Linked DNA regions of Homo sapiens. The protein of the gene in region 3 interacts with the protein of the main gene of each other region in a biochemical or structural test. Each region holds a gene or a part of one and is shown on either strand. Other genes may lie near its edges. The genes, in order: PTPN12, PTPRC, PDPK1 and PTPRB.

Evidence for each region.
Region 1: of the proteins of PDPK1 (region 3) and PTPN12, one has a biochemical effect on the other in vitro, tested with the Homo sapiens proteins (one large-scale study listed by IntAct).
Region 2: of the proteins of PDPK1 (region 3) and PTPRC, one has a biochemical effect on the other in vitro, tested with the Homo sapiens proteins (one large-scale study listed by IntAct).
Region 4: of the proteins of PDPK1 (region 3) and PTPRB, one has a biochemical effect on the other in vitro, tested with the Homo sapiens proteins (one large-scale study listed by IntAct).

Annotation. Positions count from the first base shown.
Region 1 is NC_000007.14:77,539,869-77,545,540, reverse strand, and holds part of PTPN12 (tyrosine-protein phosphatase non-receptor type 12), read right to left. Parts: intron 1-5,672. UniProt on the Homo sapiens protein: Dephosphorylates a range of proteins, and thereby regulates cellular signaling cascades. Dephosphorylates cellular tyrosine kinases, such as ERBB2 and PTK2B/PYK2, and thereby regulates signaling via ERBB2 and PTK2B/PYK2.
Region 2 is NC_000001.11:198,746,215-198,751,886, reverse strand, and holds part of PTPRC (receptor-type tyrosine-protein phosphatase C isoform 1 precursor), read right to left. Parts: intron 3,779-5,672; coding exon 3,688-3,778; intron 2,472-3,687; coding exon 2,338-2,471; intron 1,396-2,337; coding exon 1,261-1,395; intron 1-1,260. UniProt on the Homo sapiens protein: Protein tyrosine-protein phosphatase required for T-cell activation through the antigen receptor. Acts as a positive regulator of T-cell coactivation upon binding to DPP4.
Region 3 is NC_000016.10:2,557,271-2,562,942, reverse strand, and holds part of PDPK1 (3-phosphoinositide-dependent protein kinase 1), read right to left. Parts: intron 5,241-5,672; coding exon 4,980-5,240; intron 4,964-4,979; exon of another isoform or gene 1,464-4,963; coding exon 1,421-1,463; intron 1,198-1,420; exon of another isoform or gene 1,173-1,197; coding exon 1,035-1,172; intron 1-1,034. UniProt on the Homo sapiens protein: Serine/threonine kinase which acts as a master kinase, phosphorylating and activating a subgroup of the AGC family of protein kinases.
Region 4 is NC_000012.12:70,629,516-70,635,187, forward strand, and holds part of PTPRB (receptor-type tyrosine-protein phosphatase beta), read right to left. Parts: intron 1-5,672. UniProt on the Homo sapiens protein: Plays an important role in blood vessel remodeling and angiogenesis. Not necessary for the initial formation of blood vessels, but is essential for their maintenance and remodeling. Can induce dephosphorylation of TEK/TIE2, CDH5/VE-cadherin and KDR/VEGFR-2.

The DNA.
Region 1 (5,672 bases), on a different chromosome or scaffold from region 3:
AGACATAATTACAGTTTGAAAAAGGAGCAGCACTTGGATCATATGTTTTGAATTGACTTTCAAAATACACATTTAAAATTTCCAATAATTGTAATGGTCATCAAAGGGAGCAATGAGTTTTTTTAACTTATATTTTTAATAATAAAAATTAAACCATGCTTCCAGTGCAGCCCACATCTCCTGATTGTACAACCAGTATGGTTTCCATTAGCCTACAGATGCTGCCACTTGAAAGTGAGTATGATGTGTTGAATGGACTGGATGAGGAAAGAAACTAGAGGCAAGTAGAGAACAACAGATATCACTTGTAATCACTCTCTAAATACCCACAAATTCACTATTTTTGAAGAGATACCGATGACATGATATCTTGATTTTATTAAGTCCAAAGCCAAAAGTTTAAAAGACATTTTATTAATACTCTAAGACAATGTCAACAAAGTATGATCCATTGGGTGTGGGATGCACAAATACAGAAGTTACCTTAAGAAACTGCAGCTAATAAAATCATATTTATTTAAAATATTTGAATTCAATGTAGCTCTTATCTTGTATTTTCTTTTTCAGTGGATACTGAAAATACAACGAGTTATGTGAGCACATCTGTGTAGGAGGGGAAGAAGCAGTTCTCATGATCGTCTAGAAGACAAACCCTTGGACCACTGAAGAATTCACCTGAAGAATAAATCTGTCTTACAGCATTAAGTTTGTCTACAATGTCTGCACATGCAATGGACATTAGTGCCTATTAAATGCCAAGCACTATATTAAGCAATGGGGATACAGGGATAATTAAGTCCCAGTCTCTAGCCTGGGAGGCGTTCAGTCTGGGGAAGACAGAAATGTAAATATTTATGAATCTAATGAACTCAGTGCTACAGAAACACAGAAGTATTTAACATATGAACAAAAAACCTACAGCCACCTAAATGTTAATGTCTTACTTTCAGTTTCATCCTTTAAAAATCCTTTTTCCAAGTTAAATATCAAATATTGATGGAAAAAAGTTAATATATTTTGAAAGTAAATAAAGTAAAACATTCTTGAGAATGCTTAAAGTAAATTTTTAGTTTACTGTCTCAGTGAACCATGTCTGGAGAGTTACTTAAAAGTTCACTTCCACTTCTGAAGTTAGTTGATGTAAATATGTTTAGGTGAATACTCATCAAAGGATGGATAAGAAAACCATAACTAAACCAGTGGCACTGGGTAAGCACTAAGATTAGCTCAAATGCAAGGACTGGAAAATATTTCCTATCACTCTAGCTTTGAAAGACAAATTAAGACACACAAAATCTTACAAGCTAACCACAAGAAGATACCACTTCACACCCAGTAGGATGCCTATAATCAAAAAGACAGCAACAAGTATCGGTGAAGATGTAGAGGAACTGGAACCCTCATATATTCCTGATTGGAATGTAATATGTGCAGCAGCTTTGGATAACAGTCTGGCAGTTCCGCAAAATGTTAAACATAGTGTTACCACGTGACTGAGCAATTCCACACTTAGATATATACCCAAGAGACCTGAAAATGTGTCCACACAGAAACTTGTACACAAATGTTCATAGCTGCATTATTCACATTAGCCAAAAAGTGGAAACAATTCAAATACCCATCAACACGATGAATGGATAAACAAAATGTGGTATCTATACAATAGAATATTATTCAGCCATAAAAAGGCCAAAAGTACTACGGATCAATACTATAACATGGATGAAACTTGAAATCATCATGTTAGGTGGAGTCAGTCACAAAACACCACATATTGTATGATTCCATTTATATAAAATGTCCAGAATACTTAAATCTATGGAAACAGAAGGTAGATTTGTGGTTGCCTGGGGCTTATGGGAAGGCGGGGAGTGACTGCTAATGGGTACAGAAAGTGAAGAAAATGTCCTAAAATTGATTATGGTTATTGTTGCATAACTTCATCAATGTAATAAAAAACTAGTGAATCATAGACTTTAAATGAATAAATCTTATGGTAGGTACTTATATCTCAATAAAGCTATTATTAGTTTTTTTAAACCTATAAGCTACAACACTGAATAAACAAATGATTAAAATTTTTATATTTATCAAGACTGCAACATAAGATCTTCCCAGGCTAAAGAGGATATACACATAGACAAGAAATAATAAGAAAAATATTCTCTAGTTCTCTCTTTAAAAAAAAAAAAAAAAGGCAGTGGAAGGGGCACACTCTCCTTCAACCAATCTTCCTCTAGCTCCTACCATCTACTTTCAAAATGTTAAAAAAAATGGAAAGACACTAAACCCACCCTTCACCCTATAATCTAGCTTCTTCCCATACCCCAACCCAAACTGTTTTTTCTAGTCACCAAAGCACTCCTATGTGCCAAATGGAATAGGTACTTTCTCAACCTCACCTTACCGGTCCTCCCAGCATTATTTGACTCTGGTAATAACTCCTTTCTTGAAACTCTCCCTGGCTTTTCTGACATCTCTGGTTCTCCTCCCTCCTCCTTGACCACACCTTCTCAGGAACAATCACTAGTATATCCTTCTTTTGGCTGTTATTTTAAGACTGATGTTCTTCAACCTAAAGCTGGTCACTCTATAAGTTTGTTGGAATAAGCTCATTCACTCCCATGCTGTCGACTATCTCCTACATGCTTATATTATGATGCCTACATCTTTAACTCCGTCCTGTCAGAAATCTTGAGCTCTACATTTCTACTGGATGTCTCAGAGGCACCGCAGTTTTAACATGTTGAAAATTAAATTTATCCTCTTCTCCCCCTGAAACTTCCTCCTACAATGTTGTTTGGTCTCCTCTACTTGTTTCTCCTCCCTCACTCCTTACTCTACCAAATGGTATTCTCTAGCTTGGGTGACAGATACCAAGCTAGATATTTTGCGAGTCATAACACTATACTCTTTTCTTCTTTACTACCTACATCTAATGAATCATTGAGACTCCTTTCTTAATTCTTATCAGATGTGTTGTATACACTCTATTTCCCCATCTCAGTTCACTTCAGGCCCTCACATCTCACTTCTTATATTTCAACAGCTTCCAAAATGCCACCCTTCATACTGCTATCAGATTCAACTTTGTAAAACACAAATGACTGTTTACCTTTCTTAAAAGACTCAGTAGTGCTCCAGAAACCCAGACTAATGATTCTCACCTTTTCTACCAGAACCTATCTAAGTAAGTGAAGGTTCAGAGTACAACTCAAGGAGCAGGCTGGAGAAGGTGAGATGGGGGAATGACGCTGGAGTGGACCAGCATGTCTATTTTCTTAACACCTCCCTACTTTCTCCATGTCTCTAGGAGTTACAATGCAGACTGTCCAGAATTGCTATTATCGGTCTGTAGAATAAAATCTAAGTATAGCATAGATGTAAGATCCTTCACAAAAAGACCTCTACCTAACTTTCCCAGCATTACCTTTATCATTTACCATGTATTAGCTCACTGGTTCTCAAAGTATGGTCCAGGACCACCTCCCCAACCCCCAGCCATCAGAGGGAGTCTGTGTGGAGTTAAAACCTAGGTCTGTCAAACATGAATGTGCACCACCCTACTTTATACATTTATCTCTCATTTTGTAAATATTAAAAGTAGAGATAATTGAGATCAAATTCTGGATCAGCCACAAATTAGCTATTTGCTAATTTATTAGCAAAATTAGCATGTTTTCAACATGCAAATAACCATCTAGGCAACATAGTTCTGCACAGTCTGGGTACCTTAGCTGTCTCCTCTTTAACAGTATGGGGCACAACCAAGGCCAGGAATAGACACTCATAGAATAGTAATGACAGGTGGAAAATTTCTATCCTCAATAGTAATCAAGAAATTCAAGTTAAAACAAGATATCAGTTTTCAACCATCAAATAAAGATCAAGAAAATTATAATATGAACACTCATACATTATGACAGTTGTATAAACTGACAAAACTTTTTCAAGTTTATGAACATGTATTAAATGTTTATATACGTCTACCTAGTACTCCTGGGAAGCTATCTTATGCAACAGTGAAAAATGTCAGTTTCAGCAAAAATGTTAATCACAGAATTACTATATGTAACAGCAGAAAGTAGAATGACCTAAATACTCAAACATAAAGAAACAAAATTAAGATATAAGATAGTTACCAAGTAGTAGGCCGGCTACGGTGGCTCACACCTGTAACCCCAGCACTTTGAGGCTGAGGCAGGTGGATTGCTTGAGCCCAGGAGTTTGAGACCAGCCTGGGCAACATGGGGAAACCCTGTCTCTACAAAAAATACAAAAATCAGCAGGGCTTGGTGGGGTGGGCCCATAGCCCCAGCTACTCTGGAGGCTGAAGTGGGAGGATCACCTGAGCCCAGGGAGACCGACGCTGCCGTGAGCCAGGATCGCAACCATGCACTCCAGCCTGGGTGACAGAGTGAGACCCTGTCTCAAAAACAGAACAAAACAACAAAACAAAACAAAACCAAAAAATATTAACAGAGGTAGCCTTTAAATGACAGGACTGTAGGACAGCTGGATAGAGCGAAAAGAGCATCATCACCAGTCAGGCAAGTGGAGTGTTCATTTGAACTGTGGTCTAAGTGTAAGGCATTATTATTATTCTATTAATTTCCAAATTTGGAATAAACATTATTTTATGATGGAACAGTTATATCAGCTACATTATCTCTAAGGCTCAGTCATAAAATGTTAAGAATTTAAAATGCATTTTTAATCGACATCAGAATTTAAAAATAATAGAATCTATAAGCTAATCTTTTTTTTCTCTTTCCATGCCAGGAGAACATAGTTCCTCTCCAGCCTTCCAGTCAGGGGAAAAAGCAGCACCAACTACCGGCTGTCTTAATTACAGCTATTGCTTATCAAGTCAGGAAATTAAAAAAAAAAAAAGCCCTATAAAAGAATAGCCTTAGTCATCAAATCTCTAATGTAGAATCACCTAGCTATACCTAGGTATCATGGAAGAAAAAGGAAACTCATTTACTCTTGGAGAAATGAACTCTCGGTGGCTCATGCCTGTAATCCTAGCACTTTGGGAGGCTGAGGCGGGCAGATCACAAAGTCAGTCAGATGAAAGTTCAAGACCAGTCTGGCCAATATGGTGAAATCCCATCTCTACTAAAAATACAAAAATTAGCCAGGCGTGGTGGCATGCGCCTGTAATCTCAGCTACTCAGGAGGCTGAGGCAGGAGAATCGCTTGAACCTGGGAGGTGGAGGATGCAGTGAGCCGAGATTGAGCCACTGCACTCCAACCTGGGCGACACAGCGAGGTGTTACATCTCAAAAAAAAAAGAAAGAAAGAAAGAAAGAAAGAAATGAACTCTCCAATAGGAATCCCTGACTCATCCCCAAAGCATGAACCCTAAGGCCACTTCTCCAGTACAGGAGTTCAGAGGCTGGGCAACCTGTCCTGATGGCCCGCATCACCAAACAATGCTCCTTCCTGACGGTATATGCCTAGGGATAACAAGGTGACTAGCATGCAAACAAGAAATGACCAGGGACCACACCATCTCTTCTTCCATAACCAAAGTAAGACGGTAAAAAACTAGTTTTAGGCCGGGCATGGTGGCTCACGCCTGTAATCCCAGCACTTTGGGAGGCCAAAGCAGATGGATCACTTGAGATGAGGAGTTCGAGAGCAGCCTGCAAATATGGCGAAACCCC
Region 2 (5,672 bases), on a different chromosome or scaffold from region 3:
TGACCCTTTCAATAACTCAGGTCCCACTGTCCCTTCAGTGGTTCTTGAGGAAGGAGGCTGCATCTTTTGGAGCTTTGTCTCTGTCATCTTGTTGACCAACACCATAAGCAGCTTTATATATTTTGTCTACATAGCTAAGGAAAGGGCCAGATTGAAGAGTAGATGAACCACAAAAGTGTTTCTTCTTACTACAAACTGTTGTCTACCAACTACAACCCCACAATTTCTGACAAAGACAGGGAGTCCTGCCGGTACTTCCATCCTGTTTCCCAGCTTTCACAATTTATATGAAGGAAAGGATTGTGGGAATTCCATGCTAGAAATCTGGACTTATATTCCTTTAAAACAAAAAACATAAAAAGCAACTTTCCATGTACAGGGGAAGGGGACCAGGTGAGGGTGAGAAAGAGTGAGATTTAGGGGAGAGAGAGGGGCATAAAAAAGCATAAATCTTTTGCATACTTATAAGGTTATTCACTGAATAGGCTTGAACATATGTCAGATAATGTGGTTGGTGCTAAAGCTGAGTGAGATCTACCACCAGGGAAATTTTAATAATAACTGAAGACATTAAGAAAAGGATAAAATATCTGTCACAAGCATTAAGTAAAAAAATCAAATTATAGCTTAGATTCACCTTCAACTATAGACTTTTATGGCAATAAATATTATATGGGAATAAAGAAAGGATGATATAGATACATTTTTCAGGAGTTTGGTCTTGTTAAAAGAATAGGGTCAAAACTGGAAGACAGCACACATTTAGTTACATGGAATATCAATAAGTTTAGACTCAGTGATGACAATGCAAATGGCGTGTTTAGGCTTGGGCATGAAACCTGCTTGTCCAGAGTGGAGAGGATGGAAAACATAAAAATGGGAGGAAGATGAAAGACACATGAGGGGGTGATTGTCCAGGGTGCTGGATATCACAAAAAGATCTTGGCTTTTATCTTGAGAAAATGAGGAAAACAGCGTGAAAATGTAGCTGTTATTTGCTGTGACGCTGACATTGCTGCATCCTGGCTAATCTGTGAGCAGCATGCAAGACTGGAGGGGACAAACAGGAGAGACTGTCAGAATCCAGACACAGCTGATGGAGGCCAACACCAGGGTGAAAGGGGTAAGACTGAGCAGACAGAATTATGTGATGGAGGGATAAAAAAAGACGTGGGTATGGCGATGAAGCAAGCAATCCAAGACTAGAGAATGACGTTTTATGACAGAAAGGCTTAAAAGAAAATCCTCAAAAGTACAAACCTGGTCTCCATGTTTCAGTTCTGTCAGCATAACAATAACTTTGACTTTTCTTTGGAAGATCATCTGCCAAAAGTCACCAATGGTCTCCTTCAGTGGTCCCTGAGCAGCAATCATCACTTCAGGTTTCCAGTAGCTCTTTTTAGACAAAAAAAGGGTGGGACTTCGTTACTACAGAAGAGAGCTCAGTAGATTCTTAAAGTAACCATTTGGAAATATAGTCAGTTTGATATCAATGCTGTTACATACAAATAGTAATATTCTTATGTTTCTTACAAGAAACAATGTAATAGCTATATGTAAAATAATTATACAGATAATAGTAATTCTTAGCTAATAATGTGAAATCAAGATTACAACATATCTTGCGAAACAAATTTTCCTTTCCACAAAAGACACACATTTTTGTTTCTCTATAAAGGTTAATGTGATTGTAAAAAGGAATTACTTAAGCATTTCAAATTACCTTCATCGTGTCTATACTAATTTTAATTAGTGTCTTTACATTCTTATTATATTTCCTAATTAAACTAATATTCTATGAATGTGTGCTTTAGGAAACTTTGGAAAATAAGTAAATCCAACAGTGTATAAATAATAAATATTTAATAAATGACTAAAGTTTCATTGTTTGAATTCTCAGTTAATTAAAAAAGTGGGGGGATATGACACAGACTCACCTAATAATTCAGTTTATCTGAATGAAAAGTTTCTAACCATACAAATATACAAATTTGTCATTGCCTACAATTTGGGTATCTGAGTATGTATAAACATTTTCAAATACTTGTATTTGCTCAAATTTTACTATTTTTAAAATTGATGTGATTATAGCTATATTTGTCATAAAATATAACCAATAGCATTATCTTATTTTGTCTCAGGTTATTAGGTTATAGTATTTTTAAATCTTTCATTAAGTTAAATTGTAGCATTGAAATTGAAACTCTCATGTCAATCTATATGTAGTTATGACCAAGCTCATTATTCTTTTATAAAATCGCTTAATGAATGGCCCTAATAACATAGATATTATTTTAAAATGTTTGGATCTTGGGTTTTGGCAATTTAAGTACCTACCATTATAAAAGATGCATTGATGTATTTGCTTGGTTCCTCTGAATCACTGTCATCATCAGAGGATTCATCTGAATCATGCTCACTCTCTTTACTCATTTCCAGCTCATGTTTAAGTGGCACTCTGTTATAGTCATCTATGTGAAATAAATCAGTAGTAAGTCTTCCTTGAAAAAATTAAATTTCTTCTTCATTGTCATGTGGAAATTTGAAAGTATTTAAAAAGGGACAGATTGTATTATGAAAACTTACTGATCTACATGAAATAAGATCCTATATAAAATTCAGTACTTGTCGATAAACAAATTATACAACAAAAGTCTAAGAAAAAGGATTCCAGGAAAAAACATGGAACATAATTCCATGTCAAACAACAAAGAGATATCATATCATTATATATGATTATTTAATCTTTGATACATATACTTTAATTTCCCATGGACTATTATAATTCTGCTTGATATAAGTTTACAAAATACATAGCGTAGATTTTTTCCCTCAATTATACTCCAGTAATATTAAATTAACAATCTTATATGGGTAGCTTTGATTAATTATTTAGCCCAGAAAATTATTTGACCTATAATTTCTCACTGTTTCTTAATTTCTATAATTTATAATAACTTGGTCAAATGATTTGATTAACCATATCACCATCAATTCCATATTTTAAACTACATTCATAAGGACTCCTATGAAAATTAACTAGGTCAACCATGCACTGATCTGATTTATTTGGTCATCTAATTTATCAACTTGTGTTATATTTTATCCATGCTAATTTTAGTTTATGCAGCTGAATAAAATTACCATATGTGATCATTTTAATATGCTTAAATAGTAGAATTCAAGTATTGAAACTGTGCATATTTTGATCTGTTAAATTTGAAGATTTAGAATTTATAGAGTATTTTCCCCTTACTTTCAACCTCCCAGTTATAAGGGATAAAAAGGAAACATATAGAGAACAAATGGATGTAATTTTTACTATTTGTCAATTACCCTGGAGTAAATAACTGAAATAAACTAAAAATGAAAGAAAATGGGTAAAAGAGACTTGCTCTTTTTTCTCCCAGCTTTATATATTTCTCTTTTATGACAACCCATTTCTGAAATAATTGGTAAAAAGAAAACACTGAATACAGTCTACCCTCCAAAGCCCATTGTAAATGTTCAGGATTATAAGTTCTTGCAATAACTAGTATTTTAATACCTAGTAACTTCTTCCCTATTAACAACCAAATGTTGAAAACTTGCTTCAAGATAATTTATATGACTGTGTGTCCCACATTAAACAAATCCAAAAGAGCTTAACTTTATCTGATACAAAAAATAAAAAAATAAACTACATACATGGGATGACATTAGAATTCCTGTTTTTACTTTTATTTTCTTCTTGATTTCCAATGTGCTGTGTCCTCCAGCTCCTATATGAAGGAAGTCTCTGAAAAAAAAAAAAAAAACAGAAAAACTCCTTTAAAATGTAAATATTGGCTTATTGCATCATAAGATGCTCCCTAAGGAAAAGCATTTCATTAATTTTTGTGAAATTTGCATATGCTCCCTATAGGCCATAATTTTTCGGTTTGCCTCTGATTTTTTTTCTTTAAATTGCTCAGGCATTTAGTCCTTTTGACAGGGCTAGTATGCACTAAAGATATATATGTAACAGACTATGTCTCCTTCTTCAGAGCTGCTTGATAGAAAAATAATATAGTTTGTTCTTATATAAATTGAAACCACTAGACCGATGTTGATCTATATTGCAAAAGCAATGGTAAGTTATTTTAAATGATCAGAAATAAACTTTGGAGACAACACATTCTTAGGAGACTTGGCACATGTTTTGAAAGTTCATTCTTAATTTGTTTACACCTTCCAGATTGCTTTCCTCTCACCCACAGTTCCTAATTAGTCAGAAAAGATCCATCATTTCTATACACAAATCCTTTTAGTTTTCTTTCTTCCTACTTAATCCAGTCTGCCTTCATTTCTCGCTTGTAAAACATCAACAATTTCCTAACTGGCCTCTTTGTCTTCAATCTCGCCTGCTCTAATCCTTCTAAAACACAAAACAGAAGATGCTCTTCTGAAGATGAACAGCTTTCCATCACTATAAGAGGACAACAAACCTCCTCAAAATAGCATAAAAAGTCTTTATTGATACGCCCCTGACTGTTTCTCCAGCCTTACACCTTACTGGGTCCCTCAATACTTCTACCAAACCAGCTTCCTCAATTCTTGGAAGGGCCAAGCTGTTCTTCAACTCTTGGCACATAAACACTTTTTTTTTTTTTTCTTGCTTGAACTACCCTTTCCCCTTTTGGTTGCTCTAATAACTTTTCTTACCCTCTAGGTATCAGTTTAAATACCAATTTCTTCTGGAAGACACCCCTGCCTACAGTCTTTCCACTAGTCCTTAAATAAGTATTTGTCAAGTGAATAATATTTAATGATAATAGATAATGTTACAAATAACTGAAACTGAGAAGGCTCCTCATGTACAATTCGGTAAGATTTTATATACACACACACGCATGTAGATACGTGTGTGTATATAGACATATATTTTTTCAGCATAGTACCCTCATTCAAACTAATTATGGCACCCTGTTTCAAACCTCATTCTTTGCTACGTAATTGAGTGAAAGAAAATATCATCACTGAATTTTAGGCCACTTGAACACCACCATGAGCTGCATGAAGGACCAGATGTTTTGGAAACTGTTACAACACCTTGTGCTCTTGTGAGTGTAGTCACCGAGGCAGCCTATGCCCTGTAGCAATACTCAGGATTATAGGTGGAATTAATGGCTCACCTTCATCTAAGACACAAAGGATCTGTCACTCTTAAATCTCTACCTGTTTCACTTGCCATCACAAGTCTAAGCTTCCCAGTGCATCCACATTCCCCAGATTTTTATTCCTGAATGGTTATTTGTATCCTCAGATACAACCCAGTCTCTTACATCTAACCCATCAGTGCCTTCCTCCCTGCCCTCTGATGCCCATCGTCTGTCATCTGTGAACTCCCATTTATCTTAATCATCTTCTCCCAACAGTCACTTCACCCTTTTTTTTTTCTTTCCACCAATTAAAACCTGGATGTCAGCTAAGGACACCACCAATAACTCAGCAGCCCTTTTAAGAAAAAGTTGACTTTCCTCCTCACACCCCATTTACCTCACAGCTTCAAGAAAAGATACGTGTTCTCCTTGATCCCTGATTCTACTTGCAAACCATTTCTACTCATTTGCTTTCAAATCAACCAAGCACTTTGATATTCCTGCCATCATACTATACTAGCTTCTATCCACCGGCTTCACTGGGAAGTGTCA
Region 3 (5,672 bases):
ACGGCCCCTGCCCCTGCTCTCCTGCCCGTTCTCCCGCCTGGCCTAGGAGAAGCCACAGCAAACCCCACGTTCCCCGCCACAAAGAGAAGGAAGTCCAGAGTCAGTGCCAGGCTGCCACGGCTCAGGGGCCCAGCCCACCACAGCCTTTCATGCCCCCCCACACACTCCTGCCCAGGAGCTGAAAGAGCCCCACACTGCCGCCAGCCCCTACCCAGCCCTAAGACTCTTGGCAGCGCATCTTGCTGCCGGGAAGCCTCTGACACGGATCGTCAGTGCACGTCCAGCTCCTCCACCAAAATCGAAGCTTCTCGTGGGCAGAGACGCCACCCGGCATAGCAGCGCATCCCCATCACCCATCAACCTGCACTTGGCAAGCACCTCCAAACAGAGAGAGCACACACACTCCGCCGGCAGCCGAAGGAGCTGCAGGATGGTGCTGAGAGTGGGAGCAGGCCAGAACGAAGCTCTAACACAGAAGAGCCGGGTGCTGGGGAGAGACGGGGAGGACAGGTGGGAGGACTCAGGCCCCTCCCCAGGCAGGATGGGGAGGCCACGACACTTGGGCCAGCTTGGAGGGTGGCGGGGGAGGAGAAGAGCAGATGCAGACTGCACCTGCTGGGGGTGACGACGGTGTGGCGTGGCCAGCCCAGCCACTGGCAGGCCCACAGGTCAGCTGGATGGGGCAGAGGTGGGGCCCACCCCAACTTCCACCGGGCCTTGCCTCCCAGATTCCTGAGCCAAGGTTTAATAACAGAAAAGATGGCGCTCTAGGGGAGCAAGGGACGCCGACCAAGCAAGCCGCAGCAGAGAGGACTGTGCTGGAGCCACATCGGTGGCTTCTCCGGGAGGTAACGTCCTGTGCAGACTCCCAGCCACACCCTGGCGCTGCCTCGGCTGCCTCCCTGAATGTCAGCGGCCTGAGGGACCCCACTCGGCAGGGAGCGGGGGCTGCTTGTGGGAACACACAGGGTCTGATTCCAAGTGAGAGGGGTGACTGGTGTGGCTTCAGACGGCACCAACCACGCAAAGGATACACAGCTTCTCGTCGTCCTGAAATGTGAAGTAAAGCTTAACAAAGAAGGGGTGATCCAGGCGCGACATGACATCCCGCTCTCTGGTTACATAGGGGACCTTGTTCTCTTTTATGATATGTCGCTTCTCCAGAATTTTAACTTCAGGTGAGAGAGAAGTGAGTTACTATCAGAAACAACAAAAAACACTAAAGACATGACTCACAAAGGTAACTGGTACAAATTAAAGTCTTTCAAACATTGTACACAACAGCCTGGTGGTCTCTAAAGCCAACAGTGTCCTGTACCCTGAAATCAGCACAGAAACACCGGCCCTGCCACCCCAGCCGCCCTGCACGGAGCCGCTTGCCCTGCTCCCGGACGCACAGCTCCCTGCAGCCCATACTCACTCGCATATTCTCTGGAGGTTGCCAGTTCTCGAGCCAGGACAACCTGGTTGGGAAAGAAAAGGAGAAAAAGAAACACACAATGTAATAACCAGGACACTGGGCCTGACGAGTCCCTCTGCCCCACACGCACGCTTCCTGTCCCCACTGAAGGCTTGAGTCTACAGTGAAATATTTTGGGTCTTGTACTGACAAGTAGAGCTAAAAGCCAATGCTCGTGTTGATGTGTTCTAACAGCTAAGAGAAAACATATCCATCTCTCTGTTGTTTCCAGAAGCTTCTGGATCAGCTGCTAACAGCCCTAACGGTGCAACACAAGTACAAACTCAGGAACCTCTTCGACTGCCACGCCCTTCACCAACAGAAGGAAGACAGTGGCGCCACCACAAGTGGCAGGGCACAGGGGCTTCTGTGACAACAATATGTCCTTCTAGTATACATTCATTGCAAAGGCTGCCCTGAAGTTTCGTTTTTGGAAATAACTGTTATCATACATTTTGTATGATGTTGCTTGTGGGCACCATGAAGAGAGCCTGGCTGTAAAGGACAGAGGGAGCTAAACCAGCAATGCATGGCCCTGCGTGCCCACAAGAGGGAGCCACCTGCCCGGGATGCAGCAGGCCTCCTGCCCTGTCCTCTCAGCACCCCTGAGCCCTGCACTCAAACCCCACCTCCGAGACAGAGCACTCCAGCAGGGCAGGCATCCCAAACAGGGGAGAGACCCTCCACTCGGACTAGCCTGGGGCACACCCTGAGGCACCAGACTGGAGATTCCTGGTGGGCCCACGGTTTAGCCAGAGAGCATGAGGCAGCTGTGCCAGGGAGGCCCCACCACCACCAAGTGGGACACAAGTGTCTCCTAAGACACCCACAGGGGGACGGCCTGAGGAGCAGGGAGCAGAGGAAACCTGTCCCGTGACATTCCTGGGGGCTGGCAGGAAGACCTTCAGGAGGCCACAGGGCCAGGTCCACCTGGCCCCGGGCTGTGAGCCGCAATCGGGGCAGGACTCCTGATGGGACACGTCAGAAGAGATCCTGGAAAGCACCATGTGAGACGCCTTGTGGCACTCAAGAAGAATGAAGTTGGATTCTGGGGACTCTACATACTCAAGGTCTTCCCAGAGGAATACGCCACGCATGGATGGCTCTCAGCTGCCAGGGAGAAAGGGGAAGTGGGCCGGGCAGGGCTCCCCTCTCTAGCTCATGTGTTTCTGTGAGGTCACGTTTCTCCACAAGAGCACGTGCTAGCTTCATAAGTAGAAAAGAGGAAGAAAGAATTGTGAACGAGCACCGATATTTAGTGGAACCCTTTCTAAGGGGATACTGATGTGATCTTTCCGTTGTCTAAACTCAACACTTCACAAGCAGGTTTCCTACAAGAAGGAAGGATCCTCTTCCAGAGAATGGCGCGTGACGTGTCCCTCCCTGGAGGTTGTGACCGTCCTCAGGGGGCCTCCCGGCTCTCCGGTGCTGCAGCTGGCTCTTGCCCAGCCTCCTATCACTGTCCTTTCCCCCTCCCCTGGAAATCAACTTTTATGTGATCTCCATTTCAGGAAAGCTGAGAAAGAACTGAGGGTAACACATGTAATCTGAGACCCAGTACTGTGGATTCCAAACAGCCCCATGGAGGAGCCTCCGGCTCACCGTGCTCTCCCGGGCACCTCCCTGGTGCAGGTTCAGAAAGACACGGACCACAGCCCCTGGAGGGACAGTGCCTGCTCTCCACCCATCTCCAGAACCCAGGGAAACAGGCAATTTCACAGATGAGTCTTCCTTTTTCAGTCAAGATAAATGTTAAGGGCCATGTATGGTGGCACATGCCTGTGGTCCCAGCTACTCAGGAGGCTAAGGCAGGAGGATCGCTTAAGCCCAGGTGGTGAAGGCTGCAGTGAGCTATGATCACACCGCTGCACTCCAGCCTAGGTGACAGAGCAAGACTCTGTTTCTAAAAGGATAAATACATACATAATAAAATAAAGTTAAATTAAAAAGAGACATACAAGGAAGTAAAACTGAGGCCAAGCACAGTGGCTCACGCCTGTAATCCCAACACTTTGCAAGGCTGAGGAGAGAATCACTCGAGCCTAGGAGTTCAAGACCAGTCTGGGCAACAAAGTGAGACCCTGTCTCTACAAAAAATTTTACAATTAGCTGGGCACGGTGGTGCATTCCTGTAACTGCAGCTACTTGGGAGGCTGAGGTAAGAGGATCACTTGAGCCCAGGAAGTCGAGGCTGCAGTGAGCTATGATCATGCCACTGCACTCAAGCCTGGGTGACAGAGCAAGACTCTGTCTCAAAAAACAGGTAAAGCTGAGAAAAGAGGAGGCCTGTTCTTTCACTGGGTGGTTGTAAGCAGCCATGCAGAATGCCCAAGGTTTTCCAAAGAGTTTCTTCTTTCTGAAAGGATCTGAGTCCCCAAAACTTTGGGGACTAGTCTCATGGTTGAAGGCATTTTTCATGAGGGCATAATCCTTTTATAAAAAAATTATTTCATAAAACCTGCAATTTAAAAAATCTAAAGTGTAAGGGCAGCAAAAGTTAACATTAATTAAAACAATATGTTGGGAATATGGGTAAGCTATATTTCATGTTTTTCTTTGCATTGTGAAATATTTCCTATGTGTAAAAAAGAGAAAAAAGGAAAATAAACCTCACCTACGGTTTCTTCACAAAGGTCAGGCAAGAAAGAATTATTCAGGAACTCACCCAGGCCCTCCAGAGTGAGGTGCCCCCAGGGCTCCCTGGAATGGCCCTAGCACGCACACGGCGGCCACCTTGGCGACCACAGTGGCGGCACGGGACTCTGTCTCTTTAGAGGCCCAGATGGAGACAGTACACCCCGAGTTGCTCAGGCCTCCCCTGAACCTGTTACAACCTTCACTAAATCCACAACCACACACGGCTTCATGGGTCCCACGTCAGCAAAACGTCCCATGTCAGCTGCTTTCGACCTTCATTTCTTTGCTTTCAGAGGAAAAAACACCCCGAAGACAGGTAACAAGTGTGACTTGACAGTACTGCGACAATACTCCTGTTTGTGAAACTCGGAACACAAGACTCTGGAGGCTGTGTCTCCAGCAAATGTCCAGAGCGTACTGTTTTATGTATTCAAAAAAACAAAACAGAGAAATAAGAAGAGGTCAATAAATGTCCCCAAAAACCCTGGAGAGATACTAACTTTCAATCTAAGAAAAAGAACAGCTTCCCAGGGCCCTGCCAGTGAGACACAAGGACACAGAATGTAACTTGCTGATGCCAGGTTAAAATGAAATTAACTACATCAGAAAAAACCTCCGCAGACCATCAAGAGATGTGTCTAACGTTCTCATCTACAAAACCAGGTTAAATATTTAGCCACACTCATCACGTCATCTGCTTGGGGGGTACCCAGCCCCCAAAGACTCAAGTGGCCTTCACAACAGGTGACACCCCTCAAGGGGCCTGAGACCTCCTGCCTGGAAGGACACCAGCCTTGCTTGGAGTCTCCGGCAAGCCCCGAGGAAGGTGAGCCTCCCCAAGGAAATCACGTACGTTTGACACACAGCAGCAGCAAATACTCACCGTGGAAAAAGAGCCTTCCCCAAGGATTTTCCCAAACTTGAAGTCCTCAGGCCGCTTCTTCCGAGGCTGCGGCGGAGGCTGGGCATGCTGCAGGGAGCCGGCGCCGGGCCGAGGCTCGGCTGCAGTGCCGTCCATGGCGGGGCCCTGCCTGCTGCCACCAGGAATGCCAGGGGGCGTGCTGGACTCAGTCTGGGTCCTCACCATTGATGGGGATGGGCAGGAACATAACACCACGCTGGACTGGATGGGCACGGCGTCATACTAGGCGACAAAGAGGAAAAGGAAGTAAGGCTCAAGGCAGCTGCCTTGCTCTCAATGCACGGACTAAGGTTTAAGGACCTCATTTCAACGCTCAAAAACAAACCCCAAGCACAGGGCAGGCCAGCTGAGCCCCGCGGTCTGCTGTGAGCTGCCGGCCTCCTCTCCTGAGTCCTGCCCGTGCCATGGCTCCCCGCTAATCCACCAGGCAGCGCCTCGCCCTCCTCCTGTCCCTCGCGCTGCCTGAGCCTCCAGCCAACTCATCCCAAGGCCAAGGTAACCTGAGCAGAGATAGCACGGCACATCTTTAATTGTGGGGGGGATGGAGAGATAAGAGTGATGATCGCATGTGTTTACAATACACAGAGACGCCCAGTGCTGGCAAGACTATAATAAAGCGAGCGCACTCACACCACTGCGGCTGGCACCAAAAAC
Region 4 (5,672 bases), on a different chromosome or scaffold from region 3:
TAACATCACAATTAAAAGAACTAGAGAAACAACAGCAAACAAATTCAAAAGCTAGCAGAAGGTAAGAAATAACTAAGATCAGAGCAGAACTGAAAGAGATAGAGACACAAAAAACCCTTCAAAATATCAGTGAATCCAGGAGCTGTTATTTTGAAAACATCAACAAACTACATAAGACTGCTAACAAGACTAATAAAGAAGAAAACAGAGAAGAATCAAATAGATGCAATAAAAAATGATAAAGGGATATCACCACCGATCCCACAGAAATACAAACTACCATCAGAGAATATTATAAACACCTCTATGCAAATAAAACAGAAAATCTAGAAGAAATGGATACATTCCTGGACTCATAATGTGTCCAAGACTAAACCAGGAAGAAGTGGAATCTCTGAATAGACCAATAACAGGTTCTGAAATTGAGGCAATAATTAATAGCCTACCAACCAAAAAAAGTCCAGGACCAGATGGATTCACAGCCGAATTCTACCAGAGGTACAAAGAGGAGCTTGTACCATTCCTTCTGAAACTTTTCCAATCAACAGAAAAAGAGGGAATCCTCATCCTGATACCAAAGCCTGGCAGAGACACAACAAAAAAAGAGAATTTTAGACCAATATCCCTGATGAACATCAATGCAAAAATCCTCAATAAAATACTGGCAAACCGAATCCAGCAGCATATCAAAAAGCTTATCCACCACAACCAAGTCAGCTTCATCCCTGGGATGCAAGGCTGGTTCAACATATGCAAATCAATAAATGTAATCCATCACATAAACAGAACCAACAACAAAAACCACATGATTATCTCAATAGATGCAGAAAAAGCCTTTGACAAAATCCAACAGCCCTTCACGCTAAAAACTCTCAATAAACTAGGTATTGATGGAACAGATCTCAAAATAATAAGAGCTATTTATGATAAACCCACAGCCAATATCATACTGAATGGGCAAAAACTGGAAGCATTCCCTTTGAAAACCGGCATAAGACAAGGATGCCCTCTCTCACCACTCCTATTCGACATAGTGTTGGGAGTTCTGGCCAGGGCAATCAGGCAAGAGAAAGAAATAAAGGGTATTCGATTAGGAAAAGAGGAAATCAAATTGTCCCTGTTTGCAGATGACATGATTGTATATTTAGAAAATCCCATAGTCTCAGCTTTGGGCTGAAATTTTGGATCTCCTTAAGCTGTTAAGCAATTTCAGCAAAGTCTCAGGATACAAAATCAATGTGCAAAAATCACAAGCATTACTACACACCAATAACAGACAGAGAGCCAAGTCATGAATGAACTCCCATTCACAATTGCTACAAAGAGAATAAAATACCTAGGAATCCAACTTACAAGGGATGTGAAGGACCTCTTCAAGGAGAACTACAAACCACTGCTCAACGAAATAAAAGAGGACACAAACACATGGAAGAACATTCCATGCTCATGGATAGGAAGAATCAATATCGTGAAAATGGCCATACTGCCCAAGGTAATTTATAGATTCAATGCCATTCCCATCAAGCTACCAATGACTTTCTTCACAGAATTGGAAAAAACTACTTTAAAGTTCATATGGAACCAAAAAAGAGCCCACATAGCCAAGACAATCCTAAGCAAAAAGAACAAAGCTGGAGGCATCACACTACCTGACTTCAAACCATACTACAAGGCTACAGTAACCAAAACAGCATGGTACTGGTACCAAAACAGAGATATAGACCAATGGAACCGAACAGAGCCCTCAGAAATAATACCGCACATCTACAACCATCTGATCTTTGACAAACCTGACAAAAACAAGCAATGGGGAAAGGATTCCCTATTTAATAAATGGAGCTGGGAAAACTGGCTAGCCATATGTAGAAAGCTGAAACTGGATCCCTTCCTTACACCTTATACAAAAATCAATTCAAGATGGATTAAAGACTTAAATGTTAGACCTAAAACCATAAAAACCCTAGAAGAAAACCTAGGCAATACCATTCAGGACATAGGCATGGGCAAACACCTCATGACTAAAACACCAAAAGCAATGGCAACAAAAGCCAAAATAGACAAATGGGATCTAATTAAACTAAAGAGCTTCTGCACAGCAGAAGAAACTACCATCAGAGTGAACAGGCAACCTACAGAATGGGAGAAAATTTTTGCAATCTACCCATATGACAAAGGGCTAATATCCAGAATCTACAAAGAACTTAAACAAATTTACAAGAAAAAAACAAACAACCCCATCAAAAAGTGGGCAAAGGATATGAACAGACACTTCTAAAAAGAAGACATTTATGCAGCCAACAGACACATGAAAAAATGCTTATCATCACTGGTCATCAGAGAAATGCAAATCAAAACCACAATGAGATACCATCTCTTGCCAGTTAGAATGGCAATCATTAAAAAGTCAGGAAACAACAGATGCTGGAGAGGATGTGGAGAAATTGGAACACTTACACTGTTGGTAGGAGTGTAAACTAGTTCAACCACTGTGGAAGACAGTGTGGTGATTCTTCAAGGATCTAGAACTAGAAATACCATTTGACCCAGTGATTGCATTACTGGGTATATACTCAAAGGATTATAAATCAAGCTACTATAAAGACACATGCACGTGTATATTTATTGTGGCACTATTCACAATAGCAAAGACTTGGAACCAACCCAAATGTCCATCAATGGTAGACTAGATTAAGAAAATGTGGCACATATACACCATGGAATACTATTGCAGCCATAAAAAATGATGAGTTCATGTCATTTGCAGGGACATGGATGAAGCTGGAAACCATCATTCTCAGCAAACTATCACAAGGACAGAAAACCAAACACCGCGTGTACCACTCATAGGTGGAAATTGAACAACGAGAACACTTGGACACAGGGCAGGAGACATCACACACTGGGTCCTGTCGGGGGGTGGGGGACTGGGGGAAGGATAGCACTGGGAGAAATGCCTAGTGTAAATGACGAGTTGATGAGTGCAGCAAACCAACATGGCACACGTATACCTATGTAACAAACCTGCACATTGTGCACATGCACCCTAGAACTTAAAGTATAATTAAAAAAAAAAAAGGAATGAGTGCTTAATGTGACATACTGGCAAGGACATATATTGGAAAGGAAAGTACTTTCTTCTCTCTACATTCTATTGTAATTACCTATTTATTTACTTATCTGATTTCCCCATTACTTTAAGGAATAAGATGTATTTAATGATTTGCAACCTTGGCTGCACATCAGAATCACCTAGGAAGTACTTTAAAAATACAATACCTCATTTAGTCAGCTTAGAGGATAAAGCTCAGGTTTTATACTCTAGTATTAGTTAAAAGCTGCCATGTGAGTCTAATATGCAGCTTGGGTCAAAAATCACTTGTGGAGGGCACCTTAGTACTAGCACAGGGTACCTGAGTGCTAGCACAAGCTCTGGCACATAGTAGGTGTTAAATAAATATTACCTGGAAACTTGAATACAATCATTAATGTGTCTTTTATGAAACAAATATGAAACATGTGGCTTAGATTTTTACCTTCATAGGTCTGCTTTCTTTCATGGAAGAACACACAAAAAAATTCACATCCCATAGATGAACAACACATGTATTTGTGCTGCTGTAGATTATAATACTTAGTTACCAACTTAAACAATGATTTGAAATCACTCATTGCAAACATATGAATGCATTTCGGTTAATTTTTCACAGTAGCTACTCTAGCAAGTCAGTGAGCTCTCATGATATAGGTCTACAAGTATTATTCTTAAACTTTTATCAGGGCTGGGCATGGTGATTCATGCCTGTAATCCCAGTACTTTGGGAGGCTGAGGTGGGAGGATCACTTGAGCCCAGGAGTTGGAGGCTACATTGAGCTATGATCACACCATGGCTCTCCTGCCTGGGCAACAGAGCAAGACTTTGTTTCTAAAAACAAAAACCAAAGAAAAAACAAAAACAAAAAGAAAAAACCCCACAATGGCATATTTAAGATGGAGCAGAAAAATATATCTGTTAGCTTATAATTGTGTTAAAGCAAAAGTATGTGTTATACTTATGTGTACTCAAATATAAGGGTGTTTTTGTACCACAATTGTGCAAATTTTAACTTCTGCTTTTTCTAGAAATTAATTTCTTTCCCCAACACATATTATCAGGCATTTTTTGAATATAGCATTGTTCAGTGGTTAATTGCAAATGGCTTATTCTAGTTACCTTATTTTCGAAGTCTATTACTAGACATATTTGTATGAGGGTCATAGGAGGTAGTTTTTCTATGAATTATCTTTTATCTTGAATAACTCACCACTGAGTCCATATCTACTTTTTTTTAAAGTTCCAACTAAGTAATCTTATGTTAAATAAGGTTTGATTGGGGTTTGGGGATGAATCTCACTTCTTGTGTAAAACAGTAAAAATGGAACAGTTATAATGTTTCTATATTATTTAGGAGAGGCCTTGATAGATGAACCACAGGAAAGGTATTGTACAAATTGGTGCTATATGCTGAATATTTTCTGATAAAGTTGAATTTTTGAGTAGGTTTTTTTCTCATAGGCAGAAATGATATAAGAACAGAAACTATAACTCTCAACTTTTATTGTAGCAAAGCATACCACTTATTGTAGAAAAGCATAACACATTCAAATGGCATCTAGTTAAATGCTTGTTTTAACTTACAGAATGAATGAGTGAGAAAAAATTGTCCAAAGATTACCATGGTGGAAAGACTAATATAAGCCTCACAAATCAACACCTAAGGAAAAGACTTAACAATACAGTGGATGCTGATCTCCATATTGGATTATGGATCAAAATTTTCTGGTGATTAATAAATATCAAGTATTATGCACAAATCCAGATTTCCTGAAACAGAATCTTGGAGGTGGTTGTAGAGGAAAAAATGGTGGGAAAGAATCCTGGGAATGTGTATTTTTTTTTAAATTTTTATTTTTAGTTTTGGGGTACATGTGCAGGGTGTGCAGATTTGTTACATAGGTAAACGTGTGCCGTGGTGCTTTGTTGCACCTATCAACCCATCACCTAGGAATTAAGCCCAGGATGCATTAGCTACGGGAATGTGTATTTTTAGTAAGCCCTCCCTTTTCTACCCCAGGTGATTCTTAGGCAAGCCATGGGGCAAGTCTGTGGTCAAGCATTTGGGAACCTCTGGTATAGTAAAATGTACACTGAACAAAGAGTCAAAAAACTTAGGCTCTAATCATAGATCTGCTGCTAATTTATCTGGGACAATTTACTTAACCCTGAAAAATTTGTCTTCTTAGTGAGGCGCTTCGTTTCTTGATAACTTTTCCCATGCTTTGTAAGGTTCATTGGTGCCTAATATATTGTGATTCATCAGTTTTATCTTTCATGACTTTCTAAAGCAAACCTCTAATAGAAGAGTAAATACACAATTGCATGATTAACTTCAAGAGAAGATTAAACTGCCTATATATTCCACAAGCAAAAATTCCTAGCTCAGGACTGAACTGTGTCCTGCACCAGGAGCTTGCACATGTGTATAACATATTTTCTACATGTGTCCATTATCTGGGTTATATCCATTAATGGTCAATAAATTAGAAAAATCTGTGGCTGCCCATTGATTCTTAACATTTCAAAAGTGTGTTACCTCCAAAAGATATCTACCCCTAAACAGCAATACAAGAGATT